Linked DNA regions of Homo sapiens. The protein of the gene in region 1 interacts with the protein of each later gene in a pairwise test. Each region holds a gene or a part of one and is shown on either strand. Other genes may lie near its edges.

Region 1 (4,000 bases):
GGAGACAGTGGGCTGGGGACACCCTATCTTCTATCCCTTACTCCTCCCTCTAAAAGACTTCTGGCTCCCCCGCAAAGCCTTATTGAGTCAGGCCCGGAGCGATGGGTGTGGTGCTGCCCAGTATTTCCTTCCTTTGCCTGAGGCTGTGCCAAAAGAGCAGGCTGCTAGAAGAGGAGCCTCGACCTAGAGAGCAGCCCAGAGTCCACCAGGTGGCCGGAGATTTGGGCCAATTAAGTAGGGGGTTGGAGGTAGTAGTAGGAAGACCTGAGGTCAGTCTTGCCCTGGCAATTCGTGCCAGCAAGTGAAGACCCAACACTTGCATGAGGAAGGGATCCAACGAGGAGCTCATTAATGGGAAATATTCAGGAGCGCGGCCGAAGGGTTTGCGCCATTGTTGGTGAGTTGTTAAGACTTGGAAGAAAACTGACTTCAGTAAGCTTCCATTTCCACCCCTCGATGTGAGGAAATAAGATCAGGGCTGACAAACAGTGATGACTAATAATACCTTAAGCTTGCACAGCATACTTTACAGTTTACAAAACACTCTTATTTGATCCTCACAACAGCCAAGAGGCGACAAGGTGGCTATTACTAATTATCCCTAGTTTCCAGACCTGGAAAACTCTGGCTCAGAACTTGGGTGACACGGGTAGGTTACCCCGCCTTTAAGTGACCAAGCCGAGACTTACTGTGCCGCTCTCCCCCTTGGAAGCCTAGTGATGTGCCTAGGTAATGAGCAGGTAAAGTCGCTGACGCTGGGCAGCAGCTAGACGGCGCTGAAGCTCCAGTAAGGAATTTGGCATTAGGACCCAGCAGAAGCCTGGCCGCCCGCCGCGGAAAAGACTATTGGATTTGCTCTGCCGACCACACCTCCTCCCGCCCCGCCTACCTGTCCGTCTTCGCACAGCGCAGCCAATTGGTGGCCTCCACATCCTTATACGTCATTATTCTACGCCCAGGTGGCTCTAGGACACCCTGTGGTGCTCTGGGTCGCAGTTGTCCTCAGAGTTGCCTGATTGGAAAAATCTCCAGGGCGAGGGATCAGTCTCGAGGCTGCCGGTTCCCCTGGCCCTCAGGGATGGAGCCAAGGTCCCAGGGCGGGTTTTCTTTCCTAGGAAGTGGTTGCTGGGTTCTGAGGAGTTTCCCCCTTGGCAGCCATGAGCCGGCAGTTCTGGTAGTGACTGCTGGGCCCTGCTGGACAGCGGTCGCATGCAGCTCCTATGAGGCCCCTGCCGCCGGTCGGCGATGTCCGGCTGGAGCTGTCGCCTCCGCCGCCGCTGCTGCCGGTGCCGGTTGTGAGCGGGTCTCCAGTCGGCTCCTCTGGGCGTCTCATGGCCTCTAGCAGCTCCCTGGTGCCCGACCGGCTGCGCCTGCCGCTCTGCTTCCTGGGTGTCTTTGTCTGCTATTTTTACTATGGGATCCTGCAGGAAAAGATGTGAGCGACCCCGGGGGCGGGCCGACAGTCTCTCCCCAGCCTGTGACAGGGATCCCGGGCCTTCTGCCTCTGGACCCGGGCTTTCCTCTTGTCCTCCTGCCCGGCTGTCGCCCTCTTAGCACCCTACTACTTTTGCAGCTATGGCTGAGCCTACCCAGAATTCCAGAACTCCAGGATTATTTTCTGGATTCTTCGGACTTGGTTATTTTCTTTTCTTAGCTGTTTTTCCCCGCTTGGTTCTAAGGGCCTGCGTTTTACAGGCTGAGACTTCTATTCCTCAAACAGGACCCGAGTCGGCCCCCTTTTGGTACTCCCAGATGCTTGCAAACAACCTATTCGTCCTCGGCCTTGGTGCCATAGCCGAAATACCGTCTCCTCCTGCCTGGGGTACCTGATTTCACTATCTCGTTCTGCATGTTTCCTCTCCGTCTTTTTCGGGTATTCTTTTCTTAGGCTTTGGAATCAGTAGGCTGGGATGTCTAGTTTCTAGATCCAGTAAAATCAGCCCCTTTTGCAAATGAGCCTAGTGGTCCTTAACAAACTCTGCCTACATCCAGAGAGGCAAGATAATTTTAAAGTTTTCAGTGGCTCGGGATATATTAGATGACAGTGAGTGAAATACACTAATTTCTCCCTCTTTTCTCATGCATTTCATTTCTAGAACAAGAGGAAAGTATGGGGAAGGAGCCAAGCAGGAGACGTTCACCTTTGCCTTAACTTTGGTCTTCATTCAATGTGTGATCAATGCTGTGTTTGCCAAGATCTGTGAGTACCCAGATAGTAATTTGTTGGGTACCCCACCACCCCAAGTTCCCTCAGTATGCTGGGCATTAAGCATTGATTCAACCTTAAAGGCTAACTCATGATCTCCACCCCATTTTGTACTTACACAGCCTCTCTGTGAAGTCTGTAAAACTAATGACTTTGAAGTGGAGTAAAATATTATTTCCCCAATTTTTATCAGCTTCTGAGTTAGAAATGTTCAGAGAATGGGTCTTCTATATTCCAAATCCCCATTGAAAATACTTAAAACATTTTTTTCTTTCCCTTTGAGTTTCTTTTGTGTGTCAGCTTCAAGCATGCTTTGAGCATTCTCTCTTTGTTCCCTGGGGACTAGCAGCAGAGCTGACTGGTCCCTTGAACTGAATGAGGCCCCCACCTCCACCCTGCATGTGGTCTTTTGTTGGGCTTAGGTAGAATTGGAAAGATGAATAATTTTCAGAGATTTCCCAGTGTAACAGGACAGAAATAGCTTGTGTCTTGTTTGACAGACAAGTTCCTTTCATGTGGCTTCAGCTTTGCTTAGTGGTCCATCCTAGCCCCACCAGGTTTCTCTTGTTTTTTTTTTTTTTTCTTTTCTTTTCTTTTTTTTTTTTTTTTTTTGTCTTCTCCCAGTGATCCAGTTTTTTGACACTGCCAGGGTGGATCGTACCCGGAGCTGGCTCTATGCTGCCTGTTCTATCTCCTATCTGGGTGCCATGGTCTCCAGCAATTCAGCACTACAGTTTGTCAACTACCCAACTCAGGTGAAACCTCAGGGTGGGATGATGGTTGGCTCAGATATCATTTGAAAAGGACTAAGAGTTCTTCCCTCAGGTCTGTGAGTTAAAAAAAAAAAAAAAAAAAAGATAACGGTCCTGTAAGACATTGGGAGTGTATAGAACCATAGAACTTACGTTTAGTGGTGGTGGGTTGGGCCATGATAGGGCTGCTTTCTGAGGCTGAGGTCTCTGGTGCAGGCCCTGTGCTTACTCATCTTAATCAGTGCGGTACCTAGCATAGTACCTGACACATCACAGATGCTCAGAAATTATTTGCTGGATTTAATTTCAGGTCCTTGGTAAATCCTGCAAGCCAATCCCAGGTAAGCAAAGAAGATGGTCTTCCTCTTCTGTCGTCACTCTTCCTATAGTAAGCTCTCTCTCTGCTACAACTGTGTCCCTCTCGGCTTCATCATCCCATCATGGCTGTCTCCAGGGACTTTCCCCCAGCTCTCCCTGCTGCCCATCCTGTCATCTGTGTCACTTCTTGTGATGTTCATAGGCTGGTAATCCTTAATAGGAGCTAAAGGCTGACCTAGCCTGCTTCACTTGGTCAGCCATTTCTGTGTTGCATGTGTTTATATTGTCATTAGACAACTTAATTCCCATTTTGATCATCAGTTTCTTTATCTCAACTTCTTTTCCTTCTCCACTGTTCCCTACCCTTGTCCTGTCCCTTCCTGGACTTTTCACCTTTGTTCTCTACCTCCTCCCTGTCTTATACTTAACCCTGTTGCTCAATCCTTATCTAGGTGCCAGCCTGGCACCCTCCTTTTGTCCTCTCTAAGCCTTCCTTCTCAGTCATTCTTTTCTCCCTGAGTCTTTTCTTGGTTCCTGGGAGGGAGGGCATTGGGGTCATCAATACCTTATGGATGCCTGAATTTTCCACTCTGTTTTTTCCCTGTAGTCATGCTCCTTGGGGTGACCCTCTTGAAGAAGAAGTACCCGTTGGCCAAGTACCTGTGTGTGCTGTTAATTGTGGCTGGAGTGGCCCTTTTCATGTACAAACCCAAGAAAGTTGTTG
Region 2 (4,441 bases), on another chromosome or scaffold:
TGAGTGCATTCTGAGCACTGACATCGCCAGGGGTGTTCCTCTCTGAGGTTACAAATTTAGTTACTCCACTGTGTGACCACAATTGCCTCTGCAGCCCAGTTCAAGTGCTCAGTGATTCCAAGTATACCAGTTCTCTGATTTCATCAACACCATCAGTCCACCGATTCTATCAGCCTATCTTCCCTTCCCTTTCAATCCAGCTTAGGTTTCTGGCCCAATATGCATACACTTTTACCGATATCCTTAATTCCCTTGCTTCATTGTTCTTAAATCATCCTTGGCTTCTCTCTTCCCCTCATCCTCCATAGCCCATCAATCACTGAGTTCTGGCGAATTTAAGATATCTTTTCAGGTCTTTCAAGCCTTCCTACCTCCACTGCCCCTCCCTAGATCAGGCTGCCAGCATTGCTGTCCTGAACAACTGCAAACTCTCCTAGGTACTCTGCCTCCAGTCTTGAATCTTCTATAATCAGTTCCCCCACATAGCAGCCTCTGTGATTTTTTTTTTTTTTGAGACAGTCTCACTATGTTGCCTAGGCTGGAGTGCAGTGGCCTGATCTCACTGCACCATCTGCTTCCTGGGTTCAGGTAATTCCCGTGCCTCAGCCACCCCAGTAGCTGGGATTACAGGTGTGAGCCACCACATCCGGCTAAGTTTTGTAGTAGAGATGAGCTTTTGCCATGTTGGCCAGGCTAGTCTCAAACTCCTGGCCTCAAGTGATCTGCCTGTCTTGGCCTCCCAAAATGCTGGGATTACAGGCATGAGCCACCATGCCTGGCCAGTTTTTGTTGTTGTTGTTGTTTGTTTGTTTGTTTGTTTGTTTGTTTGTTTTACTGCAAATTGAATCACTGGAGTTGTCCCTGTGCTTAAAACCCAATCCTTCAAGTTGGCTTCTTTTTTCCCTCAGGATGGAATCCAGTCTCCTACATAAGACTTCAAGGTTCATAGTCAGGCCCCTGCCTAAGCCTTTGGCCTTACCTTGTACCATCTTCACTTCAAATCCCATTCATTAGCCACTGAGTTTCTTCAAAACTCCATGGTCTAACCTGAGCCAGGTGTGGAGGAAAAACCCTGGGCAGAAGTGAGTTCTAGTCCAGCTCTCCTACTTCTCTGCTGTGTAACATTGGGTTCTTTCAAGTATAACACTCTATGCCAATTCATACCTGGTCTAATGTCTTCATCTGCAATGGTGTCTTTCTTCCCTCCAGAAGAGAGAATATAAAATTTGGAGCACAGGTTGGGAAGGGTTCTGTGGACACTTCTCTGCCCACTGATAATTACGATAAGGATAATGATAGTGAATGTTTGCTGAGAGCTTACCATGCATCAGGTACTGAGACAAGCACTTTATGTGCGTGACTCATTTCCTTTGCACAAAACCCAATCAGGTAAGTATATAGTCATCCTGTTTTATGAAGGGATAAAGAACTGCATCTCAAAGGGGTGATAGTAACTTGATAGAGGTCACATAGCTCATGACCGATAGAACAAAGATCTGATCCTGCATTAGCCTGGTTTTTGAGTGCTCTGAACCACTTTGTTTAACTAAATAACTAGAGGGACAGGGGATGCATAGCCCACTTCTTAAAAGTGCTTTGTGGAAAGATAGGTTCAAACTGTTACTGCGTTTGGAGGGTCTTGGGTATAATCATGCTTATCTGTACCTTTTAAAGTAAGGACTAGTCCAATTCCCCAAAGTCTAAACACAGAAATCACCAAAGCACTAATGGCATCCCTCAATAACAGCTCTTTTGTCTTCAGGTCCCCAGGCTGACCTGAACAAACACACCTGTGTATGTTTCCTCAACAGCCCCCCCAGTGCATTTTCTCCATGAGTGTGTCTGATTGAAGTAGGTTCCAACCATTCAATATTCCCCAACTTCCATGCCCTGTGACAACTGCGAAAAATTTCCATCCAACCTATAATGTCTTCATGGCTGAGGGTGGCCAGATAGTGCAGGTTAGGGATGAAAGAGAGAAGGCATGAAGTATGTTGCTGACCTATGAGATACCTCTAGTGGGGGATGCCTCAGACACTGCCACTCTTGTTAAGCTGCAAGTAAAGTAGAGGGAGAGTGTCGCTATGGGGAAGTAAGCTGTCTCTCACCTACCCATCACTTATCCACTCACCCACTCTCACTCAACAATTTAAGTAACTACCAAGTGCCTAGCACCATTTTAGGTTATAATAGATTTTAGAGAAGCATGAGACAAATTCTCTGCTTCAAGGAGCTCATGGTCTGGTGGAGAAGACAAGAAATGCACAATTGAGAGATTAGCATTAAGCATTAAGTTGGCTCCTCACAGAAGACAGGCCACAAGGGAGATTTTGTGTCATTAGTCACAATGTGACTCTAGAGTGATCCCAGACCTTCAACTACACATACTACTAAAGAAAAATAGTGTGTGGAAACATGGATCCACCGTGGTGCGGGGGCAGGCGGTGGGAGGCGGTGCTGACATCCTCTGCCTGGGACCCTGGAAGTTAGTTTCTGCTTGTCAACACATGTCTCTTATTGACCCTGCCATAAATGAGTGAAAGAGTTGAAAGGGCTGAGTCCAAAAAAGGATGAACCAAGGAAGATGACCCAGGAACAGAATACCTACAGTGCCTTCTGAAATATTCTACCATAGCTAAATGGTGAGCATTTGTAGCTGGCCAGAAATAGATGCACATCAATTACAAGAGAGTCCTCCCCAAGAAGGGATTCATAGACCAAGAAAAAGGCCAACAAGAGGGATTATCTTTATGCACTGGGGAATCTCAGGACCAGAAGCTACTGTTTCCATCCTCCTTTCTCAGGCAGGACCATACTTCACCTAAAAACATGATAGCATTTGCTCCTGCCAAGAATGACTCCAGAAGCTGCAGAACACATATTTCTGCCAGCTTTGGGGGTCTGCTCATGTGAAGTTCTTTGGCCCTTTCAATCTGGGAAAAGAAAAAAAGTCACCTTGTCCTTGTACACCAGTACATTCTCCTTGTTTTTTGTTTTTAATAAAAACTGGCCTGTGCCAGAGCAACATACCATGTGACACTGCCAATCAGGGAGGCTCCAACCATGAGGTAGCAGACACAGAGCCCAGGAAACCAGGAAGAAAAATTAGGCCATGAAAAGCTATCACCAGGATAACTTATGCCTCTTCCTAGCTCATGTGGTGTAAGATGGAAATGAATTCAGCTGCACCTAAATCAAAGGGATGACAAGCAATTCAAACCCCTATCTCGCTCAAAATGAGCAAGAGCTGCTGACAGGTGAAAGCCAAAGAATTTTGGTGCAGATAAGTGGAGAGTGTAAGAAAGAAGTATATCCTTGAATTTTGTGAACGTTTTAGAAACATGATTTCAGAAATGTAAAATCAGGTGCTGAATTACTGCAAAAGGACAACAGCTCAAAGTGTTGTTTCTTACTTAAGCATCTTAATAATAACAATAACAATCATTACAGTTAACATTTAAAGAGTACTCACTTTTCCCAGGGACTCTTTCAAATGTCTTGTCTCTATTACCTTAATTAATTACTGTGACCCAATTATGTTGGTATTAACATCCACTTACAGGTGAGAACCCCCAGGTGATAGAGGTTAATTAACTTGCTCATGGTCACATAGCTAGTAAGTGTTAGAGTCAGGATTCAAATCCTGGAAGTCTAATTCCAGAGCCCACAGGTTTAACTACCATATGGTGTTGTTTTTAAAGGGTTTAAATAGGTGACTAAATATTGATATATGTCATTCATAAAACTCATGGTGAGGCTCAACAACAGAGGAGTCTTCTCACTTATTATGAGGTGAACACGATTATTACAGTCCCTTATTTGTGCCTGAAATAACTGATGAGCAGGTTAAGTGCCCTGCCCAGGGACATCCAGGCCTCACCTGCCTCTGTCTATCAGAAAAGCATTGATCAGGGTTTTTTTTGTTTTTTGTTTGTTTGTTTGTTTGTTTTTTGAGATGGAGTCTCGTTCTGCCACCCAGGTTGGAGTGCAGTGGCACGATACTGGCTCACTGCAACCTCTACCTCCCAGGTTCAAGCAATTTTCCTGCCTCAGCCTCCTGAGTAGCTGAGACCACAGGTGCATGCTGCCAGATCCTAATTTTTTTGTGTGTTTTAGTAGAGATGGGGTTTCACTGTGTTGCCCAGGCTGGTTGTGAACTCCTGAGTTCAAGCAATCTGCCCACCTCAGCCTCCCAAAGGGATGGGATTACAGGCGTGAGCCACCGCGTCTGGCTAATCAGCTCATTTTTTAAAGGCAGCTCTCATGAGTCACTCCTGTGTCTGTCCAGGATCCCAGGCCATCCCGCCCTCACATTTCTGTAAAATGTGGAAGCTTAGTCTTGGAGATATAACAAGTTTTCCTTCTATGGTAATAAGAAAGCAAACCCAAAGACCTAATTGTTGGCAGAAGTCTGGCTTTCATCCTTTGGACAGTTCAGTTC

What was found. Proteins that work in one complex are often made in the same cells at the same time.
Region 2: the proteins of SLC35B1 (region 1) and DRD2 interact in a two-hybrid assay, tested with the Homo sapiens proteins (one large-scale study listed by BioGRID and IntAct).

What each region holds. Positions count from the first base shown.
Region 1 is NC_000017.11:49,705,165-49,709,164, reverse strand, and holds the start of SLC35B1 (solute carrier family 35 member B1), read left to right. Parts: upstream 1-1,200; 5' UTR 1,201-1,220; coding exon of another isoform or gene 1,221-1,331; coding exon 1,332-1,435; intron 1,436-1,720; coding exon of another isoform or gene 1,721-1,822; intron 1,823-2,096; coding exon 2,097-2,200; intron 2,201-2,830; coding exon 2,831-2,961; intron 2,962-3,268; coding exon 3,269-3,299; intron 3,300-3,883; coding exon 3,884-4,000.
Region 2 is NC_000011.10:113,464,614-113,469,054, forward strand, and holds part of DRD2 (D(2) dopamine receptor), read right to left. Parts: intron 1-4,441. UniProt on the Homo sapiens protein: Dopamine receptor whose activity is mediated by G proteins which inhibit adenylyl cyclase. Positively regulates postnatal regression of retinal hyaloid vessels via suppression of VEGFR2/KDR activity, downstream of OPN5.